4 linked regions of the Homo sapiens genome follow. The protein of the gene in region 1 interacts with the protein of each later gene in a pairwise test. Each region holds a gene or a part of one and is shown in the gene's direction. Other genes may lie near its edges. The genes, in order: HR, SPRY3, RBP3 and AMMECR1.

Region 1 (7,360 bases):
AACTTCGCGACTGGGTGGTGAAGTCCTGATCTCATTCTCTGATCTCCTCCATGAAGTTCCCCTGACTTCCCCAGGGTGGGACTAGAAGCATCTTGTAATCATTCATGAACAAGCCCAACACCCCCAGCGCCCAGCACAGGGCCAATACCTAAGAAGCCTGGAGGAGTTTTGCTGGTGAAAGAACAAATGCGTGAAGTGACCATATGTTCTGGGTGGGGGAGGCCGGGCGGGTGGGATGGCCTCGTGATTTCTGCCTTTGTGCCCTGCATCGCCTGGGGCCCACCGCCAAGCCTTGAACATGCCAAGGCCCCTAGAACACGGGTTTGGTGAACGGCTGACTGCAGTTGTATGAATTCCAACACATGCTGGGGACAGAGGGGAAGGAGCCAGGAGAAGTCCAAATTCTGGGGCATTTCTGGGTGAGCACACATGGGACCCGGAGGCTCAGGGCACTGGTTGTCAACTGGGCTTCCCTGAGAGCCAGCCCTGCCTCTCTGAGAACCCCTGAGACCTCACCTTTGCCCAGCAGTTGCACACTTTGCCTCCAGTTGCACACTGGAGGGGGTTACTGTCTCACCCTCCACCCCCTCTGGCCTGGCCTCTCTTGGAAGAGGAGGCTGCATGCCAGCCTGCCTAAGCACCCCCAACCCTCTTCTCGCCACCAGACAGTGGGCCACGAGCAGGATCAGGGCTGGTGGGGACACAAAGCTGCCACAGCCAGTCCCCTTAGAGCTGCACACCTCTGCTGGGTCCTGGCCCCTGCCCCACTTGGTTTGTGCCCTGGTCTCACTCCTCACCTCCCCTGCAGCTTGTCTGCTTTTGAGGGGTTCCTGCATATCCACCCTGGTTTCTGGGTGCGGATCGCCCTCTGTTCTTGCCCCTCTCTTCTCTCTGCTCTCCACCCACAGCCATCCCTTGGCCCTTCCAGGTGGCTCCTCTCCCTCCCTGACTCTTCAGCCCCCATCACTGTCCCTCTAGGCCTGGGGCCCTCCGTGTCCTGGTCCCCTTCCCCGTCTCCAGCCTCCATGTGCGCCGCACGCACTGGCTGTATTTTTAGCTGTCACTGATTAGCCTCTAGTTCTGACACAGCCCTGGCCCAGGCTGGGTTGGGGCATCCTGGTTGGCACTGCCCTCCACCTTGAGGGGGTTAAGGAGGTGGCACTCAGCCTCTGGCTCCATCCTCTACCCAGCATCAGGGACCAGAGGTCTCAAGAGCTGGGTAGGGGGCAGACGCCTGGGCAGGAGGAGGATTCTCTGCTGCTGGAGAAGTCCTGGGGGCCACAGTTGGTGTTTCCGGGTAGGCACAAAGGTCTCAAGCCCAGGGCAGAGTGGAGCTGGCTTCCTCTCCCCGGTGGGTAGCTTGTGGGGGTAACCTGGAGGGGAGGGGAGGTGGGGGGAGGAGGAAGCGCACTGGGAGGTGCAGACTGAGAAGAGGAATTAGGTTAGGGATGTAGGTGGGTGGGCGGGAGGGGATGGCGGCATCTGCTTTGGAGCTTCCTCCGGGTTCCAAACGCATCCCCACACTTCCCTTCCCCTCCTCCCCACACCCTGCCCCCACCCCCGCGGGTCCCGGGAGAATTCGCCTGGTATTCCCCCTTCCCCATCCCCCACCAGGCGTTGCCACAGGGTGGGGGGTGGGGTGGGGGGAGGCCAGCCTCAGCTGTCTGAAGGATGGAGGGGCTGGGGAAGCAGGGCTAGGTGCCCAGACGGCCGCGTGTGTGGGAGGGGATGTCCTCAGATGCCCTCCACCCGGCAGTCCCCGCTCTGACGTGGGTGCCCCCCCTCTCCCCGCCCGGATTAGTGGCAGCTTGGCCTGACTCTCCGGGGCTCCTTCCCCCGCCCCCGCCTGCTGCCCTCCCCTGGGCCGGGGGCTGCTCCGCCCGGGGGGCACTGTGCTTGCCCAGGTAAGGGGCTCTGGGGATGGCATGAGGGCCGCCGGCTCGTGAGTGCTGCTGTGCCCGTCAGCACGAGCGTGTGTCAGCGAGTGAGTGTGTGTCAGTGAGCCAGGGGTCGGTGCGGGGCTGGGGCTTGGCCCCTGAATGGCTGGGGGTGCTGGTCAGCTTGCCTTTGTCCACAAGTCTGGCATTGTGTCCACGCGCCGTGTGGCTTTTCTTCTGTGTTTGTGTCTTTTGTGTGTCTCCTCAGCTCTGCTCCGTCTTCAGGCACAGAACAGCCGGCTACAAGGACTCTGTGGGCCTGTGGCATGGGCTCCAAAGCGGGATGGGGAGCTGGGCGAGGGTGGGGAAGGGGTCCTTCCTCCCATCCCGCGAGTCCCCACGAGCCCCTGGGCTTTTCAGGAGCCTGTCCCCAAGAGCCCTGCTACTCTAGTCCAGGGACCGTGGCCTGACAAAGCAGACATGGCAACTGGGGTTGGGGGGGATATCTGCCCCACTCCCCTGGGATAGTCCCCATCCCCTTTGGGGATGTCAGCGATAGGTCCTCAGGGTTCTGGACAGCGCAGGCTCCCATCTTGGCCTCTCCGAGGCCCCAAGCCGCAGGAATCTCCCCCTGGCACTCCCACAAGCTTCGGCTGCTGAGGAGGGAGCACAGAGAACACAGATGGGGGACCACAGACACACCCCAGCCCTTACCTTCACCCCTGGAGCCAGCCTGGGAGTGGGAGGCCGGGCCTCAGGGCCTGGGGCCTCCAGTCCATGTTAGACCCTCTACAAGCATCTCCCCTGGCACACTCAGGTCCCAGCCACCCTCAGGGGAGCTGGGGAGGAAGGGAGTGTTACTAACTCAGTCATGTAAACAACCCCTACCAGCCTGCCTTGCCACAGAACTGGCCTCTGGGGGCAGGCCAGGGGCAGGGTGAATGGATGCCAACATGGCCCAAGTCCGGCCCAGTGCCCGCTCCTTTAGACCCCCGCTCCCCAGGACCCCCACTCTTCTCAACCGGTAGAAGGCTCTAGGCCTTGCTCATCCCTTAGGAGGAAGGCTCCTGGCTATTCAGGGCTCCCCTCTGCAGGGATGGTGGTGTGACTTGGGACCAAGCTAGAGGCATCCAGAACCCATCGCTTGCAAGGGATGGGAAAGAGGGAGTGCAGCTTCTGTCCCAGGCAGGCCAAGGTTGGCTTCCGCAGGGAGGCAGGGGAGCCGAGGGTGGGAGGTGGGTGCCTGAGGGGAAGGGAAGCGCCCGTTGGGCGTGTGGGTTTCTGTGTGAGTCTGAATCTGTCTGTGTGTGTTTGAATCTGTCTGTTTGTGTCTGCACTGGAACCACCCCCGCAGCGGAGCCGGGATGCTTCCTCGGGTGGAGGGTGCCCTGCTTTTCCATTTCCTCTCCTCCTCTCTGCACTCTCCCGGGAGCCACTCCCATGGGCGCCTCTCCAGCCCCTGGCCTGGAAGCACCAGGAACCCTGGGGATGGGGCAGACCCTCACAGCCCGGGGTCTGGAGCCGGTGTCGGAGCTCATCTGGGCCCATGACCTCTCCAGACATTTGGCAAAATCAAGGCCCTTAGACCAGGGACAGACCCAAGCCCAGGCCCTCCCAGAGGTCCTAGGACGCAACCCTTTGTGCCCTTGGGCTCTGGAAGAGGTTTGGGAAGGGTTTGGGGTGGAAGATGGCAAAGAGCAGCTTGGCCAGGTGAGGATGAGGCAGGGCAGACACAGGCCAGTGGGGCGTGCCATGTGCCACAGATGGAGAGGACCAGGAGCCAGTGGCCCGGCAGGCACAGCCCGGTTGGCGTGGGCCAGAGCGCCCATCACTGACCCGTGAGAACTCGACTGCCCCTGCCAGCTCTGGCACTGCCCCCTCCCAGCCGCCCCGCCCTAGCACCCTGGGGGGCACCCCGCCCAACCGTGGCCTGGTCCGGCCCCTCCCGCCCTTTGCTCCAGTTCCCGGGCTTGGCACCTATAGTGGGGGTGCCGCCCGCCTGCCAGGCTCCGGGGCCGGGCCCACGGGAGGGTGGGGCGGCTGGGAAGCTGGCACGCTGCCCCGGGGGAGCCTCTCTCGGCAGGCGCCCGGGTGCCGCGGGGGGGAGGGGGAACAAAGGGCTCATTCTCCCCGTGCGCAGCCGGTGGCATCGCCGGGGCGTTGGCGGAAGCCCCCGGGGCCCGGGAGGGGGCAGGCCCAGGCGCGGCCGCCGAATCACGGGCTCCTGTTTCCCGCAGGGTGCTGGAGGAGGAAACCGGCGGAGCAGCTTCCCCACTCTCAGTTGCGCTTCTGGCGATGGCGATCAGAGGTCCTGCTGCGCTCTCCGCCGCGCTCTACCTCCATTAGCCGCGCTGCGCGGTGCTGCGCCCTCGCCGGTGCCTCTCTCCTGGGTCCCAGGATCGGCCCCCACCATCCAGGCACGACCCCCTTCCCCGGCCCCTCGGCCTTTCCCCCAACTCGGCCATCTCCGACCCGGGGCGCGTGTTCCCCCCGGCCCGGCGCCTTCTCTCCCTCCGGGGGCACCCGCTCCCTAGCCCCGGCCCGGCCCTCCCCGCGGCGCAGCACGGAGTCTCGGCGTCCCATGGCGCAACCTACGGCCTCGGCCCAGAAGCTGGTGCGGCCGATCCGCGCCGTGTGCCGCATCCTGCAGATCCCGGAGTCCGACCCCTCCAACCTGCGGCCCTAGAGCGCCCCCGCCGCCCCGGGGGAAGGAGAGCGCGAGCGCGCTGAGCAGACAGAGCGGGAGAACGCGTCCTCGCCCGCCGGCCGGGAGGCCCCGGAGCTGGCCCATGGGGAGCAGGCGCCCGGTGCCGGCCACGACGACCGCCACCGCCCGCGCCGCGACCGGCCGGTGAAGCCCAGGTAAGCGCCAGGAGCGCGCCGTCTGGGGACACTCGTGGCGGGGGATTTCTGAGCCGAGCCTGCGGTGCCCGTACGGAGCGTGTTCCCCGTGCCCCTGTGGGCTGGGCCACACATTCTGACACCTGAAAGTTAGGAAGCCCGACGCGGCCAGACCACGGCGGAGCGGTGGCTCCAGAAAACCTGGGCGCCCTCTGCCACTGCGCCGTCACCTCCCGCCTGGGGCTTCGTCGCTCTGGCCGAAGGGACCGCGCCAAGGCAGCGCTGCCGCTCTAGTGCCACCTGTCATCCTGGTCCCTTGCACGCACGTTCAATTTTCCCTCCCTTGCCTCTCTCTGGGGCCCAGCCCGCTTTCCCCGCCTCCTTCCCTCTCCCCTCCCCGCCAGGCTGAAGTTTCCAGCGGCGGTGGCGGCTGCCCTGGCACTGCTGGCTGGGCTAGGGCAGCTTGACCCATCCAGCTGAGGCTTCTTAATCCCCCTCCCCTGTGCCGGCGCGCTCTTCCCGCTGGGGGCCAGGGCGGGGTTCCTAGCCCCCTGCAGTTGTCCTGGGACTCTGCTTGAGAAGCCGAGAAACTGCAGGGCTCTGGGAAGAGGCTGACTCAGGGCCGCCCAGGTGTAGAGAGAGACACAGCCAGCGGCCCTGGCTGGCAGCGTTCCCCAGCGACTCCAGCCTGCCAGGCCTGCACTTCCCACGGCTACAAGCCTGGCTGGGGCTGTAGGCTAGGGTTGGGCTAGCAGCACCCCCAAAACCACGGATTGCAGGATGGGAAGAATCCTCTGAGCCGACCCAAGCCTCAAGGGCACACTGAGGCCCAGAGGAGTGACATGATTTGCCCAAGGCCATACAGCATAGGACAGAGTCAGGCTCAGGATCCAGCCTTTTTCTTCATTCAGTGCCTTCCACTTTCTGTCCTCCCTCATGGGTCGTGAGCAGATTCCTAGCTTGGTGAGGCCAGGACATGCCCTACTAGCAATGGCAGCCTCCGCTGAGGGGCACTGGCCCAGGTGGAATTTGGGGAAGGGGTAACATCCCCACACTGGAGGAGCAAGATGTGTCTGGCTGCATGTGGAGAGGCAGCATGGTGCCCAGTTGTGGGCTGGCACTTGCCTTACTGGTTTGAGCTGCCTCAGTGTTGCCAGGGCGGTGCCCACTCTGTGCCAGGCTGTAAGGTGCTTGGGACATGTGCCCCAGAAGCTCATGCTTTGATGGTTATGCTCCAGGGACCCCCCTCTGGGAGAGCCCCATGAGGGCAGGAGAGTGATGGAGAGTACGCCCAGCTTCCTGAAGGGCACCCCAACCTGGGAGAAGACGGCCCCAGAGAACGGCATCGTGAGACAGGAGCCCGGCAGCCCGCCTCGAGATGGACTGCACCATGGGCCGCTGTGCCTGGGAGAGCCTGCTCCCTTTTGGAGGGGCGTCCTGAGCACCCCAGACTCCTGGCTTCCCCCTGGCTTCCCCCAGGGCCCCAAGGACATGCTCCCACTTGTGGAGGGCGAGGGCCCCCAGAATGGGGAGAGGAAGGTCAACTGGCTGGGCAGCAAAGAGGGACTGCGCTGGAAGGAGGCCATGCTTACCCATCCGCTGGCATTCTGCGGGCCAGCGTGCCCACCTCGCTGTGGCCCCCTGATGCCTGAGCATAGTGGTGGCCATCTCAAGAGTGACCCTGTGGCCTTCCGGCCCTGGCACTGCCCTTTCCTTCTGGAGACCAAGATCCTGGAGCGAGCTCCCTTCTGGGTGCCCACCTGCTTGCCACCCTACCTAGTGTCTGGCCTGCCCCCAGAGCATCCATGTGACTGGCCCCTGACCCCGCACCCCTGGGTATACTCCGGGGGCCAGCCCAAAGTGCCCTCTGCCTTCAGCTTAGGCAGCAAGGTGAGTGCAGGGGCAGAGAGGGTACCTGTGGCTCTGGCCTAGCAAAGTTGCTCGGTGGTCCCCAAGATGCCCTTCCACTGTGATGAAAAGAGAAGGCAGCACCGAGGTAGAGGGGTCTATCAGCTTGGAGCTGTCCCAGGCCCCACAGTCAACCCCAAGCAAGCCCTACCCTGAGCAGCTCCATCTCTCTAGGCCTCCCCTGCCCTCGGGTCATTGCAGCCACTGACTCACCCATTGTCTGCCTAGGATAAGGTCCTGGGAACTGTGGCCTTGGAATGTGTGGCTTGTCCTGGGAGGAGATGGGTGGGCAGACAAGGGCCCTCTATCTGAGACTGGGATGTGCAGGGGACCCCATGGCCCATGTCTAGGGTACCTCCTCCATAGATGACTCCCACTCCCAGGGATGAGATGTTAAAACACTTAAAACTCAGTATGGCACAGGACACCAAATGGCCCAAACAGACCCCAGATGCCCTTTGGCTGTGCCAGGCATTCACTCTTTAGTTCTTAGACTTCCTTGTGGGGACGTCTGAGAAATCCTGGGGGAGGAGGTGGGGGTTGCCAGGACAGTGTCAGAGGCACTCCAGAGACCTAGGGCAGTGCTGTTTATTAATCAGAATGTGAGGGCTTCAGTATTCTCCCCTTCCTTCTTGCTTGTCAGTTCTGCCCATCCATTTAGGCATGGGGAGCCCAAGTCAGCTGAAGCGTAACACTTTCTCCCCTCTTTAGGGCTTTTACTACAAGGATCCGAG
Region 2 (7,302 bases), on another chromosome or scaffold:
GAGTTAAAAAATTAAAGAAGGAAGATTTATTATAAAAGTAGTGACTTTTAGCCAGAAAATAAATATTCTGGACACAGTGCAATGTTGAATTTGGCTGAAGCTTTGGTCTATGACAAGAATCCTGCTAGGTATTCTATAGAGAAACAAATAAATGCTAAAACTTTTCAGAAATCATCTAGACCATACAAAATTTTCCTCACCTATTCATGGACAAAAATTTGGTAAAGCTGAAGGGTATATTAATTTGTGTTTCGGTTTATGAACATTTCTGACTCTGGGGATATGAACATTTCTGACTCTCAACAGAAATGTGATTCAGCATAAACGTAGTAACCTATACAATTAATTTTGCAGTGAAGAAGTATTAATTAGGACTCATTAGTTAAAAGTTATCAAAACCTACCTGAAACTAACAAGCAAAAGAGAGAAATTTATGGGAAGATAATAAGGTGTTTCACAGAACTCAAGAAGGATTAGAACAATCAAAACTTTTAAAAAGGCAAGGTATAGTTAGGCCTCAAGAATCGTCAAAAACAAGGATTCCAGTGACATTGACTCTATCATTCTTTTACCCCTATTTTTCCCTGCACATTTATCTGGGGTCTCTCTCTCTCTCTCTCTCTCTCTCTCTCCTCTCTCTCTCTCTCTCTCTTCTCTCTCTCTTCTCTCTCTCTCATCCCCTCGTTCCCTTCCTTGCTTTCCTCCCCACTCCTCTCAAGCTCTTTTTGTTTCCCAAGTCCATGTAACAGTAGATACGGTTACGGACACCTTCCTAGATTTTCATATTACAGATTCAACCACTGAAGAGAGACACTAAGCCATATCAGGTCCTCTGAAAAGCAAATCTACAGATCTATCGTGGGTAATGGCTGGCAAGATAAAGAGGAGATTACAGTACAGCTCTATGGAAGTCTCAACCACCCCAACAGAGACTGCTAATTAGAGGAATCCTGCGTTAGACAGAAACAGCCCTAGTACACCTCTTGTGCTCAGAGATTGGCTGGAGATGCCTGGGAAGGGAATGGCCTTGGATCAAATGATGCAAAAATAATCCCAAAAGTGCTCCAGCTGGAGACTGTTAGCTGACTCCACTCCTCATAGTAGGTTTTCCCTTGAAAGATCTGAGAGGCACTCCCTGGTTACCATAGACCTTTATGGTCCTATCTCCATAAATCTATGAGGGATTTATTGGCCAAGTTTGAGACTGGTGGCCACCTAAGACCAATCAACTGTAGCTAGGTGAGCGATGTCACATATACCAAAGGATAATTTTCTCAGTTTTCCTGGGGCTGAGGAATTCCCTGTAATGTGCTAAAACCACAACAGTTCAGGGCAAACTAGGATGCTTAGTTATTTTATTAGTACCCATGTTAATAGGGGTGGGAAAGTTAAAACCGTCCAGTAATATCCTACTATATAAACAATTGTACTTTACTGTATTTATGGAGGAAATTCTATGTATAGTGGTTTTATTGGATTAGGATAATTTATAAAGGTCTCAGAAGAATTCCCTTGAAGATGACAAAAATTTCATACTTTAATTCTTGCATGCTGGTTCCCTTGTGCATTTATACATTCTTCCTCCATCTAGAATGCTCCTCTCACTGCAACCTCCCTCTCCTCAACCTTGTCCTCACTGTTAGAAATGCTTCTTGCCCATTTCTCTAGTTTCCACATGGAATTATTTCTCTAAATTAAGATTAAATCACATAATAAATGCCAAGCACATATCATAGGACATGGCATAAAATAGGGGCTTGTATCAGTCAAGGTTCTTAGTTGCATGCAACAGAAGCTGAAGCTGACTGATTTAAGCAGGAAAAAAAGTTATGTTGGGAATGACACTGGATCAGCACTCTTGCCGTTAGAAACATCATAAAACTGCATAAAATATGCAAGGAAACTGTTTAAAGATATTGAGCAATAGTCAGCCCATGATTATGATCCCCAGGAAAAGAGAAACTCACAAATCAAGCCCCAAGACTGCCTTAGCTCTTTGCCTGGTGACTATTTTCTGATCCCAGCATCAAGAGCTAGATTCCAAGCTGAGCTTGCAGTCTCATTGAACGAAGGAGGAAAAGATCAGAGCTCAGGGTAGCAGAAGCATCTGAAATCTATGGAGCAAGGCATTAGAGAAGACAATCTGTGCAGATGTTGGGACGGGTAAACATATGTCTTGGGGTTTCCAGCAAAACTTTAAAAAGAGGAGGAGTTATAGAACTTCTTGGTTTCAAGACTAACTATAAAACTACACTTATCAAAACAGTGTGGTATTAGAGTAAGAAATAACAAATAAGTCAATAAAATAGCTCAGAATCCAGTAATAGGCCGACATATATTATGGTCATATATTTCTTTGGTTTTAACCTTCTATTTGGAAATAATTGTCAATTCACAGGAAGTTTCCAAAAAATACAGGGAGACCTCGTGTACCCTTTACACAATTTCCTCTGATGGTAAAATCTTGCCTAACTCTGGTACAATATCAATCCAGGAAATTTACATTGGTAAAATCCACAGAGCATATTTGAATTTTACCAGTTACACATGCATATGTGTGTGTGTGTAGTTGTATAAAATATTCTATGTGTAACTTTGTATAATGACGACCACAATTAAAATGTAGAACATTTCCATTGCCACAAGCTTTCTCATGCTGCCCCTTTATAGCCACACTCACTTCCCTTTCTCCTCCTCAACACCTGGCAACCATTAATATGTTCTCCATCTCTATAACTTTGTCATTTCAAGAATGCTATATTAATGGAGTCAGGCAATATGTAACCTTTTGGGATTGGCTTTTTTTCTACTCAGCTTAACTCCCTTTAGATCCATCTAAGTTGTGTGTGTCAATAGTTGATTCTTTTTTATTGTTGAGTGGTGTTTCATGGTATGTATGTATCAGAGTTTGTTCAACCAATAACCCACTGAAGAACATTTGAGCTGTTTTCAGTATTTTTCTATTATCAGTGAAGCTTCTATGAGCATTCTTGTACACATGTGTTTTTTTTGGGAATACCAGTTTTAATTTTTCTGGCCTAAATGTCCAAAAGTATGTTTCCTGGGTTATATGCTATTTGCATATTTAATACTTTAAGAAACTACAACACCGTCTTCCAGAGTGGCTGTACCATTTTATATTCTCACTGTCAATGTATGAAAGATCCAGCTTCCATGCAACCTTTCCAGCATTTTGTACTGTATTTTTTATCTTAGCTATTTTTTATGTCAGGTATTCTGACAGGTCTGTGGTGATATCTAATTGTGATTTTAATTTGCCTTTCTCTGATGATGAATGATATTGAACATATTTTCATGTGCTTATTTTCTATCTGTATATAATCTTTGGTGAAAGGTTTCTTCATGTCTTTTGCCCATTTTCTACTTGGATTGTTCAGCATTTTTTATGGTTGAGTTTTGAGAACTTTATATATTTAACATACTAATTCTTTGTTAGATATGTGGTTTACAAGTATTTTCTCCCACTCTGTTGCTTGTCTTTTCATCCTCTTAAGACAATATTCTGCAGAGTAAAAGTTTTGAATTTTGAGGAATCCAATCTACCAAGTTTTTTTATGGATTGCGCTTTAGATGTCAAGTCTTTACTGAAACCTATATCCAAAGATTTTATCATGTTTTTAAAAAAAGTTTTATAGTTTTGTGGCTTACATTTAAGTCCATTATCCATTTTCAGTGACTTTTTTTGGTAAAGTATGAAATTTAGGTTGAAGTTCATACTTTTGCCTATAGATGTTCAGTTGCTCCAGGACTATTGCTTGAAAGGCTATCCTTACTTTTTTTTTAACTTGCTTTTGCACATTTGTCAAAAGTCAGTTGGGCAAATTTGTGAGGGTCTGTTTCTGTTTTTTTGTATTTGGTTCCATTGATCTAAGTGTCTATCCTTCAGCCAATACAATGCTGTCTTATTACTTTAATTTTTTTATATCATTACCAATGCCTTTGAACAGGGAAATTCTCTTAAACCACTGAAAGTTGAAGAAAATGAACCTCAAACTCTACCTCATACCATAAAAAAAACTCAACTTAGAATTAATCATAGACCTAAACGTAAATGCTGAAATTGTTAAGCATAAGGAAGAAAACATGGGAGAATATCTTCATGATCTTGTGTTAGGCAATTGTTTCTCAAAATAGAAAAAAAATCATTAACCATAAAAGTTTAAAGTGATAAACTTCATTAACATTAAAAACTTCTGCATGCCAAAGACATTGTTATGAAAATGAAAATATAAGCCATGGACTAAATACAAAATATTTATAATACCTATATCTTACAAAAGTAAGGTATCTATAATACATATAGAACTCTTAAAATCAAACATAAAAACACAAACAAACCCAATTAGAAATGGGAAAAAGATTTAAACATATACTTACAAAAGAAGATGTACGAATGGCCAATAAACATATGAAAAGATGTTCAACATCATTTACTCTTGAACTGAAGGAAAAGTTAAATCACAAAGACACAACACTTCACACAAGCTATAACATTTAAAAAAGAATGATACTACCAAGTGTTGATGATGATGTGGAGCATTTTGAGTTCTCATACATTGCTGATGGCAAAATAAAATGGCACAATTGCTTTAGAAAACTGGTTAGCAGATTCTTATAAAGTTAAACACACTTTATAAGATTCTTAGTTAAACACACTTTATAAGATTCTTAGTTAAACACACTTTAGCAGATTCTTATAAAGTTAAACACACTTTATAAGATTCTTAGTTAAACACACTTTATAAGATTCTTAGTTAAACACACTTTAGCAGATTCTTATAAAGTTAAACACACTTTCCCTATGACTCAGTAATACCACTCCTAAGTATTTACCCAAGAGAAATGGAAATATATACTCATACAGTCTTCTGCACAAATTTTTACAGCAGTTTTATTTGTAATAGCTCCAAACTGCAAATAATTCAAAACATGCAAATTGATAATTAACTATACATCCATAAAATGGAATACTACTCACCCATATAAAATAATTACTCGAAAGCAACAAACGTAGATGAACCTCAAAAACATTATACTCAGCTAAAGAAGCTAGACACAAAAGAATACATACTGTATGACAATTTATATAAAATTCTAGAAATTCCAAAATTAAATTATGCTGGTAGAAAGTAGAATAATGGTTTCCTGGAGCAGAGGAGTTGTGTATTTACTGGAAGGAGTAATGACAAAACCCTTCGGAGTGATGATAATGTTCTGTATCTTGATTGTGTTGTTGGTTACACAGTGTATACATTTGTCAAAACTCGTTGACTTGTATAGTTAAGATCTGTACATTTAACTATATATAAACTATACTTCAATAAAAATTAAGTTAGAAAAAACAGATATTTGGTGGCTAACAGAATTATCATGAATCGTGGAGAACCAGGCATGGGCTGGGTGTCTAGGACCACCAACCAAAAATTCACTGCACAACTGGTGTGACGAGGAAACCTCTTTTACTACCACAAAGGACTAGATGCTACTATATATACCAGTGCTATTTCTACAACAGAAAATCAACTTTACTGCAGCCAGTAATGCCAATGGCTGCCGCTTCTATGCTGGAAACCCGATTTACCAACTATTATTGTTCACAGAGTCAGTATGAGTGCAAGAATATGCAAGAACAGCTAAGTTTTGTGATCAAACTCTGTCACTATCATTATCTTCAGTTTATTCTGCTTATGTGATTCTGAATTGTTTTTAACTTTTGTTTTAGCAGACATTCTATGCACGTCTTGTACTATAAATAGCTTAAATCCATTTTGGATTTAAGTCAAGAAATGCATACAACAATGAAGTATATTCTAGTCATCAAACCATATTAATTTTTTCTCATATTACCTATTACATTTTTTCCAGTCTTACTGTTGGTGAGGCAAGAACCCTGGGCTCTGGAGTCAGACAAACATAGGTTTTAATCCTGGTCTACTCACATTGTCTACTCCATCCTTCCTGGATTTTCCTTTGTTCTACCACTCTCCCACTTCCATGAGTTTTCTTCTCCCTAAACATTCCTTTTTGTTTCAACTATTTCTCATAAAATGAGTTGGGCTATCATCATATGCCAACAGGAAAAAATGTGTCTTCAAGGGTCTGTAGGCCAAGTTACCAAATGATGTCCTCTCCACTCTGGTAGTCAGGGTGATATCAGCAAAGGTCCCCTCATTTCAGTATGGTCAAAGATTTATTTGAAATTCAGTGTATTACCAGCAATGCTTGGCCCAACTTCTCTAGTATGACTGACTTCCTGAGCAAGAGACTCAATATATCTGGGGCTCCAGAGCAGCCAAAGGTATTCAAGGGTCTCTTCATTTATACCGTATCTTATTACACAACGTCTATGCATCTGAGAAAGGAACTTCACCAACAGAGCAGTGCAGAAGACCCCGACATGGGTTCCCTGCCCTGCTTTTACTACAAACTCACAGAAGCCAAAGGCTACCCGCAAAGGGCAGGTGGGTGGTCCTCACTATCAAGTCAGTATCTCTGGAGTATAGGGCCACCTCCTGTACAGGCATTAAGGTCAACAGGCTTCATGTAGAAGCAATTTCAAACCAACACCTGTGCTTGTCAGAGCATGATGGGCATTCAGAAAAACCCTCACTCTGCACTTTTCACACTCTAAAGTCAGACTGTTGGGGCTATAAAATATATGTGATGCAAAGTATAGTAACTTTCAGAGGACTAACAAGAAATTATAATATCACTGCTTTTGGAAAATAGGTTCTAGTGGCCCTAGGGCATGTTTCATCCCTGAAGGATTGTGGGTATTGAAAACAAACCACTACCTGCAGTTAAAGTGAGAACTCCATGCTGTAAAATCAGTGTTAACCAGACATCCTACACTTATGTGATTTGTCTTAATTAGAGTTTGAGCTCCATAATTCACTGTCTCAGCGGCTTATTCTGGCTGTATCCCTCAAGTTTGCACAGCCAACCCCACCTTCATTCTGTAGTGGAACCCAAATAGGATCCTATCTATTGGAGCCATGTCTGCTAAGTAAAAATAAAAATGGAGATACCTAGGGCATGACTTTGCACTACAGGCTGAAAATGCTGCAGTTTGTGCAGAAAGCAGTACTTGTACAAATTTCTACAAATCAAGAATTAGAAGAGGAGAAAATAATAATGTGGATCATCACAGTGTCCTGGAAGGTTCCCCCTCCAAGTTTCTTCATATTTAAAAGATAGCAGTCTCTCAAAATGTTAAATTATCTGAAGATGATACTTTTATCAGTAACTTCTTGAGTCAAGCAGACCAACAGATGGGTCTGT
Region 3 (7,302 bases), on another chromosome or scaffold:
AGATGGCCACCAAACTGAGCGGTCTGCAGAGCCGCTACTCCAGGGTGACCTCAGAAGTGGCCCTAGCCGAGATCCTGGGGGCTGACCTGCAGATGCTCTCCGGAGACCCACACCTGAAGGCAGCCCATATCCCTGAGAATGCCAAGGACCGCATTCCTGGAATTGTGCCCATGCAGGTGAGACCCAAGAGAGACCTGGCTGAACCCAGTCCCGGGAGTGAGTTGACCCATTGTCCGCACATGCAGGGCTCTGTGCACAGTGCGTGACAATGGCTTTTAGATTTGTTCTCACGTTTAAGTTTTGACCGGTCAAGTCCTTTCCTCTTTCTCAACCTGTTCCATCCACTCTCTGTGACCCTGGGGTTGCTGAACACCTCTGTAGAACATTCATATTAGGTTGGTGCAAAAGTACTTTCAATGGCAAAACCCGCAATTACTTTTGCACCCACCTCACAGGAAGCCAGTTTGAAAGCCAACCAATACTCACAGGAAGCCAGTTCGGAAGCTCCTGGGATAGAAGGCATTTCAGCCTTGGCTGGGTGGAAGGTGAGTGTTGGCAGGGCTTCTCATTGTCAGTGCTAGGGAAGAGGCCAACACCTGTCAGAGGTGGCCAATGGACTTCACCAAGTGCCCCACGCTGGCCGAGAGCTCCACCTAGGCAGCACTCACACCTCCACACTGTTCTACCTGTGGTCTGCTGCATCGTCACAATTGGGCAGGGCAGCATTTGCCATGGGATCCCTTGCAAGGAGGGTCTGAGACCAGGGCTTGGGTGCAGGCGCTTTGTCTGGGAGGCGGTTACTGAAGCAGGCATGAAGGAGGGAGCAGGGAGAGTGGGTTGGGAAGCTGACAGGCAGGTGCCTCAAAGCTGTTCTGCTGAAGCCAGGACCCTGACGAGTGCAGGGATGCTCCCAGGCATAGCCCTCTGCAGGCAGGGCCCAGTGGTTCCTGTCCCGCATTGGCCAAGAGTTGCCCTGAGACATGCCTCAGGGTGGGGCAGGCTCCCTCTTCTTGGAGAAGGCCTGAGCTACGGGTGGAAAGGCAGGGCTGTGCTATAGGAGAGCCTGTCAGTGGGGTCGGGTGCAGCTGAAAGCAGAGGGGGCTGAGAGTGCCAAAAGCATCTACTACAGAATTGTTATCCCCATTTTCCGCAACTGAGGCCCGGAGAGGAGCAGAGGGGAGTGGCCTGAGGCCAGAGAGCTGTGACTGAGGGCAGGGCAGGGCCTGGAGGGCAGTGTCTCTGTCAATGAAGTCTCCTTGCCTGTCAATCTCACCAAGACCTGCCTCCCTCCAGCAGCCTTAGAGAGGGAGGAGGAGGTGCATCCACGTGCGAGTAGCCTGTGCTAGGCTTGCAGAATCCCCAGTTTCCAAATCAACATCTCCTTCCTTTCCAGTATAGCCAAGGTTCACGATTTGGAGTCAGATGTGGATTCAGATTCTGGCTCCACCACTTACTGACTGTGTGACCTGAGACTAGTTACTTAATCTCTCTGTGCTTCAGTTTTTCCATGGAAAAGATGGGGATCGTGTTATCTCCTGTACAGGTGGCTGTGAGGATGATGATAAGCTCTACAAAGTGCTTAGTACCGGGCCAGGTGCCTGGTAAAGGTAACTAACATCTTCCAATCCTGCCCCAGTGGAGCAGCTTAGAGACATAGGAAGTATCTGGTAAGGTTGGAGAGGTCAGAGGGGAGTCCATTCCTGGGCCTTCTAGCTCAGGACACCAGGGCATGTGGGTGGCAGACAGGAGCATCCTCTGCAAGGAGGCTGCCCATAGATCACACATGTCCCAGTGGCATGTCACATCCAGACATGCCACTGGGAAAGTCCCTGGTGTCTACTAATTCCTTCAGAAATGTTAGTTCCTGTCCCATGCCCTTAATATTTCCCATGGCGCCTGCTTTCCTGGGCTCTAAAACTGGCTGCTCCTCCTGACACTGAGTAGGACCTCCAACTCTTACAGATCCCTTCCCCTGAAGTATTTGAAGAGCTGATCAAGTTTTCCTTCCACACTAACGTGCTTGAGGACAACATTGGCTACTTGAGGTTTGACATGTTTGGGGACGGTGAGCTGCTCACCCAGGTCTCCAGGCTGCTGGTGGAGCACATCTGGAAGAAGATCATGCACACGGATGCCATGATCATCGACATGAGGTCAGTGGCCAGGGGTCAGTGCTTCCTAGCCAGGACGCAGGGCTGCCAGGGGACAGTCAAAGCTATGGGCCACAGCAGGGAAGAAAAGGAACCCTGTGACACAGCAGAGGACCTGAGGGGGGCCAGGCCTCCTGCCTATCAGGGCTTCGGCCAGCTAGCCCAGCAGATCTGCTGTCATTGCAGGTGGGGCCCAGCACTGGTAGTTTTTGCAAGCTTCTCCAGTGATTCCAATGTGCATTCCAGATTGAGAATTACCCCAGATTTGCCTGGTCATAGGATTCAGTGGGGAGGAGAGGAAGGAGATGTTAAAAACACTGATTCCTGGGCCCCACTCCCCTCTTACTGACTCAGAAGCTCCAGGGGACAGGCCCGATAATCTCTATTTGACAGGCATCCCAGGTGATTCTGATGGTCAGTGGTGTGTGAGACAGCCAGGCCCCCCACCTGGGAGTGTGCCTCACATCATACAAAATCAACACATGACAACCCTGGTCATATGAATCGTACAGGCAGAATTTGGAAATCACACAGGGAAAATTTAGAAGTTAATCACTATTGTTAACAAAAGAATTCTTTGCATCACCAAATGATTGTCAGAAGGATGTCTTCAGCTAGCCACCTCCCCTCTGTTTCTGTAAAAATGTGCCTCATATGTCATGAGTTTACCTCATGGACCAGGGGTAGGAGGTGGATGAGTACCCTCAGGCAGTGGCCAGACCTGGCATCCCATGACTCTGGGGTCCATTGGTGGACATGCCCCAGCACCCTCCCTGGGCAGGTTGCCTTCCTCAGACGGGACCCTTCCATGCTCCCGTGTTGTCTGAAAGAAGTGGCAGGGGGTGGCAGACCAGAAGCATTCACCCAGCTCCAGTTCTCTAGCCCTCAGCGCTCACTCACATGGTTCTTAGTGGTCACTAGGTGGCTCTCGGTCCTGCACCCACTGCTTCTCCTCCCTGGGAGATAAAACATTAGCCCTGGCTCCAGTTCTGTGTGTGTTCACAGCCTGAGCTTGAGGCTCCTGGGGTCTCTCTGATCATTTTATTCTTTAGAAGTTCTGTTGAGCACCCAAATGACACTCATGCTAAGTCTCTTTCTTCTGAATATGCCATTTACACTTTTTAAAGAGGAGATGGCCCCAGCCTGCAAGTGCACTTTGCTTAAAGACCCTCCCACCCCTGAGGTTTGTTTGGAGGTTCAGACACTGACATCACAGGCCCCGAACCCAGCCAGGCCATCCCAGGCCATCAGTTGGACGAGGCTCCTTAACACATCACTAGCCCCAGTGGGGAGACAGGGGCCCAACGAGGTCACACAGTGGGACAAATCTAAATGGCCTGGGAGAAATACAGGCTCCCCTGCTCCCAATGCAGCTCCACAAGCCTGAATATTTCAATACACTAAGTGCCCTGTTAAGACACCTGAACTAAGACAGCTGGTAGGTGTCATAAGATTGTCACAGAATGCAACGGGAAAAACAATGTTTCCCAAAATGTGTTCCACTCATAGGAAGATATGGGTGCAGGGGAGCAGTCCATGGTCAATAAATGGGGGAAATTTATCAACAAGTTTCTGACTGCAGGACTTGTCAGGGCCTTTAATATATTAACATGTATTAATTACATAGCAGAAGGAAAGGATAACATATTTGATCACTAAGTTTCTTGTTCTAAAGAGACTAGTACTCTTGGAAATACTCTGGAAAATGCCAACCCATGGAATTCTAAAGGAGGAAGAGGCACTAGACTGAGGCTGCCAAGAATTAGAACCCTCCATGGGACAAAGATCCTGGCCTCCCCGAGGGGCACACAGGGCCTCACTGTGAGCTCAGCCCCTGAACAGGCTCTGCTTCCCATCCTTCAGGTTCAACATCGGTGGCCCCACATCCTCCATTCCCATCTTGTGCTCCTACTTCTTTGATGAAGGCCCTCCAGTTCTGCTGGACAAGATCTACAGCCGGCCTGATGACTCTGTCAGTGAACTCTGGACACACGCCCAGGTTGTAGGTACGTGGAGAAGCTTTCTCCTTTCTGCTGTCATTCTAGAAGCTTCTGGGAAACCAGGGAAAGACAGCTTGGGTGTAGGTAAAAGTCATAGTAACCAGAATGTAAGGCCCTGTCCTAGTCCAGGCACTAGATGTGCATGATCTCGAATCCCTGAAAAGCATGTATCACTATGCCCGTTTTCTAGAGGAAAAAAAAGGGGGTGTTGACTAGGTCAAATATCTTTTCTAGGGTCATGCAGCTAATAAGTGAAACCCAAAATGTGAATATTAGTTTGTCTAATACCAAAATTTCCCCCAGGCTTAGCACCATAATCACCAGCCTGCAGGACAAATGCAGAATTTGAAGGATTCTCCCCGCCCCTCACCAACCCCAGTGGGCATTGCCAGTGCTCACAGTACTTGAGCTCTCAAGCCACAGTGCCACAAACTTGCCTGGAAAGGTCATGATGCTGATCGGGCTTCTGTTCCCCGCCCTGGGCCCAGAGCAGTGGCTATAGGAGCAAAGGCAGGCCCTGAGCTTTACAGAACCATAACTCTCAAAGCCCCATTCCAGGGTGGATGGCCTCCATCTATCTTCCCTGCCCAGTGTGTAAGACCAAGGAACTTGTGCTCCTACCCAACAAGAAAGGACTGGAGAGACCGATGGGGGTGTGCCTGTGACCAGAGAAACACCCCACCATTTTCATGTCCATGCTTCTGTAATACACAGGCATTTTGCTGTAGCTCCTAGGACATACGTTCAATAATATTACAAGTGTAAATGCAAATCAGAACCAGGTGAATTCTAAATTCAAATAGATGTTCAAGACTGGAAGTTAAAGATAGACTCAATTCTGCAGATAATGAGGCCCCAAAACCGCAAGGTCCAATATGGGAGCCACAAGCCACCTGCGGCCACCAAGCATTTGAAATGTGGCTCTCCCAAGTTGAGATGTGCTGGAAGTGTGATGTGCTGGAAGTGTAATGTGCATACCAGATTTTGAAGACATTATGAAAAGAAAACCTCATTAATAATTTTATTTGATTACATTTTGAAAAGAATGTATTTTGGATACATTGGCTTAAACAAAACATGATTAAAATTAACACCATGGGTTTCTTTTTGCTTGCTTAACATGGCTACTAGGGAACCTAAAATGACATCTATGGCCAGCATTCTGGCTCACGTTGCATTCCTGTTGGACAGTGCTGTCCTGGAGAGTTGTTCTTATACATCACAAATTGGGCTTTTCTGAGTCCAAAGTGAAAAGGAAGTCAGGTCGGTTTAGGTGTTCTCATTATTCATGAAGAGAGAGGATGCTCCTTTCTCAGGAGAGTCAAGCCTTTCCTATCACTTGGCATAAAAAGGCCTCGTTGGGAGTTGTCAAGCACTGAAATCCTCGTGATTGGGCATGCATTCTTGTCCCCATTTTACGGATGCAGAAATCAAGGCTCAGAGAAGTCAAGTGGCTCACAAGTGGACACAAGGACACAGACCTAAACCCCCGGGCCTCCTCCATCACTGCAGGCCCAGGCAGGATAGAGAAGACAGGTGCTCCAGGGTCCTGACATGACCCCCATCCTGAAGGGCCTTATGTCTTCCAGGTGAACGCTATGGCTCCAAGAAGAGCATGGTCATTCTGACCAGCAGTGTGACGGCCGGCACCGCGGAGGAGTTCACCTATATCATGAAGAGGCTGGGCCGGGCCCTGGTCATTGGGGAGGTGACCAGTGGGGGCTGCCAGCCACCACAGACCTACCACGTGGATGACACCAACCTCTACCTCACTATCCCCACGGCCCGTTCTGTGGGGGCCTCGGATGGCAGCTCCTGGGAAGGGGTGGGGGTGACACCCCATGTGGTTGTCCCTGCAGAAGAGGCTCTCGCCAGGGCCAAGGAGATGCTCCAGCACAACCAGCTGAGGGTGAAGCGGAGCCCAGGCCTGCAGGACCACCTGTAGGGAAGGGCCCCATAGGCAGAGCCCCAGGGCAGACAGAACCTCTGGGACACACACCAAGGGCACTCCTGCAGGTGGCCCGGCCTGAGGTTCCCAGGAGCAGCAAAGGGGCCTGCTGAGCTCTGGTTAGGTTACAGCTGGAGGTGTGTATATATACACACACACACATGTATATACACATATATATGTGTATGTATATATATGTATATATATATGGCTTTCCAATAACCACCTAAATTTTAACAAAGGTTCCTTCTAAGTGGTAGAACTTGGGGTGGTATTTTTACCTTCCTTCTTCATACTTTGCTCTTTTTCTTAAATACTCATTAATGTGCATATATCATTATTTTCAGATGCAGCTATCATTATTCCAAAATACAAAATAAAGAAGATAAAATAAATTATATACCCGAGCCATTAACCACAATTTAGTGATCACTAGTGGTTGTTAAATCTCTTCTTTTCATGAGTTCTCCATTCACATTATTTAGATCTTCTGGATCTGCCCTGCTGACCTCTATGGACAGCTGATTTTATTTAAGATGTGGTGCAAGATGCTGTGGGGTCAGCAGGTGGCAAAGATCTTGTGGATCTTAAATAGGGAAAGGGCTGGTGCGGCCCTTCTGCTGGTGATGTACATACACTGGCTGTGTCTCTTCTGAGCCTCATGCCGGCTGCATAGCTGGCCACTCTCATCTTCTACCCAGGAGCCAGCTGAGACACAGACAAACTCCGCAGCTCACCCAAGGTCACACATCCAGCATGGTGGACCTGTGTCCTCCTTTGGGCCACCCAGCATTTGCAGCACCTTTGGATGATCAGAGAATCACTGCCCATAGGAATCAGTAGGAAACAGTGATGTCAGCCTTGCCTGGGTGGGAAACCAGCCCAGCCACTTCCCCAGCTGAGTGGTTCTGGGCAATTTGTTTCACTTCTTTGGGCCTCAGTTTGTTCACCTGTTCAATGGGAGAAATAATACTACACTTGGAGTTGTGAGAATGAAGTGAGTTAATCTAGTGTCCAGCCAATGTTAGCTGTCATAATTTCTCCACCACAAAGCTGAACACTCTGGAAGCCCCACTTTTCCAGCCCTTCTGGCAGTAGGGCATGGGCATGTGATCCTGCCTTGGTCAACCAGAAGCTCCTGTGCAAGATGTTTAATCTGGAGCAAGTGGCCAGGGAGCCTGGGCAGCGGCCATCTGCCAGAAGC
Region 4 (7,517 bases), on another chromosome or scaffold:
TTTTGATTGTTCACAACTCCTCTAACTGCCCCAAATAACACTCTGTTTGATCATCTTCTTCCTAGAAAGCCTTTTTCTCCAATCTACAACTAGCTAGCTTTATTAATTCTTCCACATTCAGAGTAGATATTAGCATATCTAAATCTCATTAAGGAGTTTATAGAACTTTCTCTAAAGGAAATAGGTAGCAAAACAACATTCAATTAGTTTGTACTCAAGTTGACAATAGAAGATGTAAATGAAACAACTAGAAAACAATCCAAGGTAGATCATGGTGCTTTTGCTCATAAATGTGTTCATTAGATAAAGAAAGAATTTTGGAAGGAAGGATCTGTTTTGTAATCAGAAAAACAAAAACTGATTTACGAATTTGAATTGAAAAGTAGGTAAAGAATTTCAGTATTTACTCACGTATTCATTCAAATATAAAAGGGAACTGATTACCACCTCCACCACAACAACCATGTGTTATACGTGTACAAGGTTAGATCAAAGTGGTAGCTAAGAATATTACATTCTGCAGTTGTTCAAGGATGACAGTTGAGAAAGTTTGATGACAGAGGATAAAAATAACACTTGTTTGGGCATAAATGGCAGGTTTTTTTTTCAATGAAATATGTGAATGTTCCTCCTTTTACCCACAACCCCAGAAACCTAAGAAAATAATTTTGCAACATTAAGTTCACCACCTCATCGAATTATAATTATTCTTATTTTCTGAAATGAAAAAATAACTATGTTGTAAACACGAGAACAAATTGAGGCAATGATAATATATTAACTAACTATTGGGTTTAATTCAATTACTAGCTTTGCTGCACAATAAATAATATGCATAACCTCTGTCCAAGTATTTTTTTCCACAGTTGTAAAACAAAGCCTTTGACAGGAGTTAGTTAACAGCAATTTAGAGCTGCCTCTAAATTGCAGAAATAAAAATGCTCACAATTTGAATGTGCTTTGTTGACAAAGAGACTATGGCCTATTTTTTTTTTTTAAGTGGAATCTTCAGCTCCCAGATTGACAGTCAGTTACAAAGAGAGGAAGGCAACTTAAAGTTTCCTCTGGAGGGTATTATCACTGCAGTCCAGTATCAGCAGTGGGTAGAAACCATGTGCTCTATCATATTTTGACCTTTATACTTCAAGTCAAGAGAATCCTGAGCAAGGTCAGTTTTTCTATCCACCCAGTGTGCACTTTGCATAGATGTAAAAAAATTTTTTTCACAGAATTTGTTCTGTGGATTTAGTTTATGTTTGAATGAAATATGTTTCTTTTTATGCTGGTGACTTTACAAGAAAACAAGGCCAGGAGAGGCATTTCCTCAAATGCCTAAAGGAGACATTACCACCATCACCACTACTTGCCAAGCGATTTATAAAGCATCTTGAGGCTCAAGGTTAGTATGGGAGATGAGCCAGGCTCAGGAGAAGTTAACACAAAGATAAAGGTTAGTGTTTTTCCCCCTTTTAGTCAGCCAATACAACAAAGTACTTAGATAATAACCCCTAGCGGTCAGGTAATGATGTATTTTCTGCAATTATCACATTTGTGTTTGTCTATTTTCTTTATGCTAGTGAGGTTTGGAATTGGAATTGAAAATCCTCTAGGGAAAAGCTATTTTTGTAATTCAGCTGGGGTGTCCTTGTCTTTGGGTTTTCCCATTGCATCAGTCCCTTAGCCTGGCAGGATAGCCATGATAGTGCTTTGTCTTTTAGATGAAATGCAGAACTAAGGACATGACTACTGGTGCTTATTAAAGATTCCTTGCTATTTTTCACAAGAGTAGGGGCGTTAGACTCTTGTCTACTGGCCAAATTCTAAATTGGGAGATTACATTCTGCTTTCCTAAATTCCCCTAGCAGAAGCAGCCATCCATGGTATCCTACTTTGCTTCCTGTGCTAAACTGTTTTGTGATGTCATTAAATGGCTCTGGTTTTTTACTCTAGAAATGATCACTTTAGTGGGGTGGGGAGTAAATCGATACCTATTGTCTGATATTATGTTCAGTCTAGTTTCAAAAAAATTAAAAGGTAGCCTGTGGTAGTTAAGGACAAAGTACAAAACAAAACACCCTAACGTACAAAACACCCTAACATACCAGTTGTTGTGGTGCTTTTTAAAAAAACCAATCTGCTTTCTCTTCTGTAACATAGACAAAATATTAATGCATTTTTTTACTCCACTAGTAATTGACAAAGAATTGTTATTTGTTTCATACTTAAGGTTAATTCTAACAGTGATGAAGTTTGAGAGGATGAAATTACATATCACCGACCAATTAAACTATCCCTTTTGTCTTTAGGCTGCATCTAACCATTCCAGATTTTCATCTATCTATCTCATAAAATCTTTTTGGAAGGAGATTTTTCATCTTTCCTTGGTAACATATTTCAGTGTCTCTCAATCTTTCCATAAAAACTAAGTTCTTATTTCTGTTTAACCTCGGTTCCACCTGCTGGAGTGTAATGTCACTATCTTTTGTCCATCCTTAGCCTTGTTATCATATATTGTTAGTGAGAGGCAATGTAGTATAATGGCATGGTTTTTGGAATCAGACATGCCAGCATTCCAATCCTAGCTCTGTTACTTTCTAGGTGTGTGATGTTGGGCAAATTACTTCTGAGGTTTAATAGCCTCATCTGTTAATGAGTAACCTCAGAGCATTGTTGTGAAGATAAAACGAGATAGTATCTTATTCTGAAGGATTATGGGGTAGGACGAGGTATGGTATTGGAGACCTAAAAAGTGTTCAATACATACTATAATAGCTATTTATCTGATTATGTGCATGTATCTGACTTAATTCATAAACTCTTTTAGAGCGGGAGGCATACTTCCTGAGTACGCCCTGGATTTCAACAGAAGTATAGTGTTGTGCACATAGTATGGTGCAGAGGCTCAATATTACTGAATGAATAAATTGTTTTGTTTTTATTCCCTGAGTGGAATGAACAGCCCCCAGCTATCTGCAAGATCCCACGCATGTAGAAAAAAGGTGACAAAAATCAATCTGCAGTTTTTAAATATGCAGATACCTGACTTTATCTAGATGTTTTAGCATGGTGTAGATACAATGCAAATAACTTACGCTTTCTATTTCTATCACGTTCATTTCTACGAATTTTAACATTTGATTATTGTCATTATTTTTATTATTAAGCTGCACTTAGGCACCCAGAAAGGGACTGACTCATATGTCTCCTCATCCATCCAAGCATTTAATTGAGAAATTTTAAAAATGAATATTAAGAGCTAATTATATACTTGAACAAAATCTTTCAATTTGTGACTAAGTACATTACCTTCCCTATTTATCTCTAAGATCTGAGCACTACAGATAATATTCCTAATTGCTTTGTACCCAAGCCAAGAAATAAAAACCAAAACCAGAAAAGTCCACCACTGCAAGTCCCAAAGCACAATTAGTATCTTTGAACCAGTGAAGTATTAGTTAGGACTTTATTTTTGGCTTTTAAATGTTTAAACGGGGCAAGGAGGGTAAGTTGGGGGAACAAGTACAAGATACATAGATTCAGTCGGACTTGAATATTTCTCCATAAGGAAAGGAAAGAGTACCCTGGTGTGTGCTTAGGCTGGAATTAAAAAGACAGCAGCGTGGCCATTTCCTGGATTGCTTTGTACACACTTTACAGGGGCGGTCTCAGGTATGGAGCTCTGGGCACCTGCTCGCTCACACTCCAACAGTTCAGAAACCCGTGTATTTGAGGCCGGGTGGCTCAGGTTCCACGTAACTGGGCTTAAGTGTCATTAATACTGCTTGCGGCGGGGGGTTACTGAGCTGTGCTTTGGGACCTGGATGCTTACTTCGGACTTTCTCCTTTCTTCCCCCCTACCCCCACTAGTTTCCCTTTCCCTCCTTCCTTCCCGGGCGTGCCCACCTTCTCCCTTTGCTCCCACTTTCCGCTGTCTGACTCTTGTTTCCTTCACCTTCCTTTCTAATCGGCTTCCTGTCTTCCAACCTCTGCCGGCCGGAGAGATTGAGATTGGGGCTGGGGCTGGGGCTGCGGCTCAGAAGAGGCACGAGTCGGGCGGGACAGGCGCGAGGCGCCCAGCCGCGAAAGCGAGGAGCGCGCACCGAGGCGGGGGCGCGCGCGGGGCAGCCGCGTGGCTAGGCAGACGGGGCCGGGAGCGGCGCGCGCGCGCCCCGCCAGCCTCTGGCGCGCCCCCGGCGGCCTGAGCCGCAGCGTGCTCGCCCCCGCCGCCAGCTCGCCTCACTTATGGGTCGGAAACGCTGCGTGGGGGAGACTGTTCCAAGATGGCGGCGGGTTGCTGCGGGGTGAAGAAGCAGAAACTGTCCAGTTCGCCCCCCTCTGGCTCGGGTGGCGGTGGTGGCGCCTCCTCCTCCTCCCACTGCAGCGGAGAGAGCCAGTGCCGAGCTGGGGAGCTGGGACTAGGAGGCGCCGGTACGCGGCTCAACGGGCTGGGAGGTCTAACCGGAGGAGGTAGCGGCAGCGGCTGTACCCTCTCTCCCCCCCAGGGCTGCGGCGGCGGCGGCGGGGGGATCGCCCTGTCGCCACCTCCGAGCTGCGGAGTGGGGACCCTACTTTCTACCCCGGCCGCCGCCACCTCTTCCTCACCCTCCTCATCGTCCGCCGCCTCGTCCTCATCGCCGGGCTCCCGGAAGATGGTGGTGTCAGCAGAGATGTGCTGCTTTTGCTTCGATGTGCTCTACTGTCACCTGTATGGATACCAGCAGCCCCGGACCCCCCGATTCACCAACGAGCCCTAGTGAGTACCGTGCCCTCCGCCGCCCTCTCCCTTGCGCTCGGGATGGGGCTCAGAGTTGAGGCAAAGTGCGAGTCCGCCTCCCGGCCGGCGGATGCCCCTGCCCTCTCGCTGCCCGGGTCCCCGGAGCTACTCAACTGAACTAAGGGCACCCTGCGCTTTTTGCCCTCCGAGGCAGGCACCCCACACTTGGAGCAGGGTGCTGCTGCAAGGAATGGCCCCGTGGCTCCTAGAGGTGTTAGCTTTCTCTTTGCGATGACTTCGAGGAGTTTTGACTCCTTTACTTGTCTCCTTCACCACCCCCACCACCCCTCACCCTGCCCCGGTTTTGGAGATCTGGGTTACTCAAGGTGTTGACCTCTCCTCACTTTGGTTTCCATTACCCCAAGTGAAAGCCCCGCCAGTATTCCCGCCCCGCGTATCTTGCACATGGAGAACTACTATCCCATTGCAGGATGAAAAATAGCAACTATCCAACTTCTGTTAGTGATGGAACTTAGCTCTGGAGCTTGTGAGGTTACCCATCTTCTCCTCTGGGTTTTCTTGTGCCCTGGGAAGGGGGGAGGTTTCTTAAAACACATTTTTCCCTTACTACTTATTTTTATCCAAATACACCCATTAAAATGTGTTTCTCGTGTAGCGAGCGCACTGCCGGCTTCCTCACATTTGAAGAGTGCGACCTTTTTTTTTTTTTTTTCCATTCCACCGTCTGGATAATAGCTCATTCAAAGAGAACTGTCCCCACAGAGCCACGGTCAGTTTGTACATTAAGCGTGCATTCGCTTTTGTGTCGATTTCACTTTTTAAGAAATCCATGTTATACTTGATGATTTGAGAACAGTTAAATAGTAAATGTGTAGGAATTGTTATGGTTTCCTTTGGTTTTGTATCTTAAATTATTTTACCCTTCAAGTGTGTGGTTGAAAAATTTTAAAATAGCACTGTTACAGCTAAAAGCCAGGTTAATTCTAATCCCTGTCCATTTGGATGTGTGGGAGGTGGGGCATATGGTTTTTTTTTTTTAATGTGTAAACTGAATGTAAACTGACTTTTTGCGTTAAATGCTAGACAGAATGTAAAGACCAAGAGAGGGCAGAATGAGAAAAAGTGCAATTGCTTTTATTTGAGTACTTAGCATCAACAAGAAAAATAATACAGAAAAAATTTCAGTGAAACTCGTACTGAAAGGCATCAGCCCCTTTTCCAGCTAAGACAAGTGCCCCTTGTCCCCCATATCATAAATACCTGAATTGATGTTCTTTTAAAACTGCTCCTTTTCATTTTGTGAGATTAGAGGATTGGACTACTGTTGTATAAGTATAAACATTTCTGCCTAGACTAAAATATTAAATTAATATGTAAAGTGGAAATTACAATAAAGTGTCCTGGAAATTGTGCATTTGTACTGTTTGTTTTCTTTGGCTTTCATTCTTTAAATGTCTTTAATTTTGTATGACTCTTCTGTGGTCTGTGCATTTTCTTTTAGACTTGGTTAATCTTTGGGCATTGGTTTATGAGAAGTGCATGAAAGAGCATCCAGGAGAACACTTCGTCAAATAAATATCTTTATAAATTTCATAGTGTTAATTCTAGAAGCTTAAATCCTAAGTCCACACTTTTATTTAGCCAATTCATTTTTTTGGTTAAGAAGTAAAATTCATTTTGAAAAGACTGCCATGTAAAATAAATCTATGAAATATTTATTAGCTTGAGTCACTTATTTGTGACTTTTATGCCTTCTCTTGGATGTCTGTGATGTATTAAAGCTAGTCCTGGGATGATACTTAGGTTGGCTCTGCAAAGTCATGGGACTGCAAAAATTCACTCCTGTTTAGTTCTTGAGCTGTTAACATGAGTTTGGCAAAGGCTGCTTTAGTATTCACGCTCCATTGCTCCAAAGCATATGAGAACACACTTTCAGGAGGTGCTATTTTCACACATTTTACAGTGAGTTTGGGTTAACTCAATGACTATAACAAGAATTTTAAAAGGAAAGTGAGCTTGACCAGTTCATACAGAAAATGCTTTTGAAAATATCATTTTAACAGTAGCCACTTTGCACACGTATTTAGATATTATTCTATTCAAACACCCCAGCCCCTGGATTTCTTTTTCATGGAATTAAGCAGATGATAGGACACACTTTGACCACTGTGGATATGTTGAAACGGTGGTGGAAGAATAATAACTATTATCATCTAGCAGACCTTGAATGTGTCATGTATTCTATAAAACAACTAATGTAGAGTAGACACTAAACATGACCAAGTGGAGAATGAAAGTTCACTTAAGTGGAAAATGGACTGTCTTATTTCCATTTATCTTCAACTCATTTTTGAGGTGTACTGTGGAAAATTCAGGAAAACTTCCTGATTATGGGAGGGACATAACTAAGCATTTCAACAGTGCCTTAGTAACTACCACACATTTGTCTTTCTGTTTTACATATTTAACAGCATTGTGTACTTATTAGTGTTGCTTTATCCTAAGTGCCATAAGACATAAACAGACATATTGGGATTTTTTTTTCTCATAGTTATTATCATGTCATGAGCAGTGTGTTTCAGGTCATGTCTCTGCCCACCAGATGTTGTGCTTTTGACAGTTTTAACTTCTCATACGTAAACGCACACTCTTTTCATCCTTTCCCAGGACTTTTCTCTCAGAATGTCTGTAACTGGTGAAATCCTCGTTTTATGGGTTTAGAAGCTGTAGATCCATCAGTTAGTTATCCTTCCACTCAGTATTGAGGGGATGTCAATATATG

Evidence for each region.
Region 2: the proteins of HR (region 1) and SPRY3 interact in binary tests that used the Homo sapiens proteins (3 or more experiments, as listed by UniProt).
Region 3: the proteins of HR (region 1) and RBP3 interact in binary tests that used the Homo sapiens proteins (3 or more experiments, as listed by UniProt).
Region 4: the proteins of HR (region 1) and AMMECR1 interact in binary tests that used the Homo sapiens proteins (3 or more experiments, as listed by UniProt).

Annotation. Positions count from the first base shown.
Region 1 is NC_000008.11:22,127,807-22,135,166, reverse strand, and holds the start of HR (lysine-specific demethylase hairless), read left to right. Parts: upstream 1-4,156; 5' UTR 4,157-4,458; coding exon of another isoform or gene 4,459-4,563; 5' UTR 4,564-4,739; intron 4,740-5,956; 5' UTR 5,957-5,996; coding exon 5,997-6,608; intron 6,609-7,337; coding exon 7,338-7,360. Other genes in the region: protein HRURF, read left to right, coding at 4,459-4,563. UniProt on the Homo sapiens protein: Histone demethylase that specifically demethylates both mono- and dimethylated 'Lys-9' of histone H3. May act as a transcription regulator controlling hair biology (via targeting of collagens), neural activity, and cell cycle.
Region 2 is NC_000023.11:155,615,499-155,622,800, forward strand, and holds part of SPRY3 (protein sprouty homolog 3), read left to right. Parts: intron 1-7,302. UniProt on the Homo sapiens protein: Inhibits neurite branching, arbor length and neurite complexity. Inhibits EGF-mediated p42/44 ERK signaling. Negatively regulates the MAPK cascade, resulting in a reduction of extracellular matrix protein accumulation.
Region 3 is NC_000010.11:47,351,363-47,358,664, forward strand, and holds the end of RBP3 (retinol-binding protein 3 precursor), read left to right. Parts: coding exon 1-176; intron 177-1,962; coding exon 1,963-2,153; intron 2,154-4,013; coding exon 4,014-4,156; intron 4,157-5,739; coding exon 5,740-6,095; 3' UTR 6,096-6,519; downstream 6,520-7,302.
Region 4 is NC_000023.11:110,314,835-110,322,351, reverse strand, and holds the start of AMMECR1 (nuclear protein AMMECR1), read left to right. Parts: upstream 1-4,266; 5' UTR 4,267-4,280; coding exon 4,281-4,753; intron 4,754-7,517.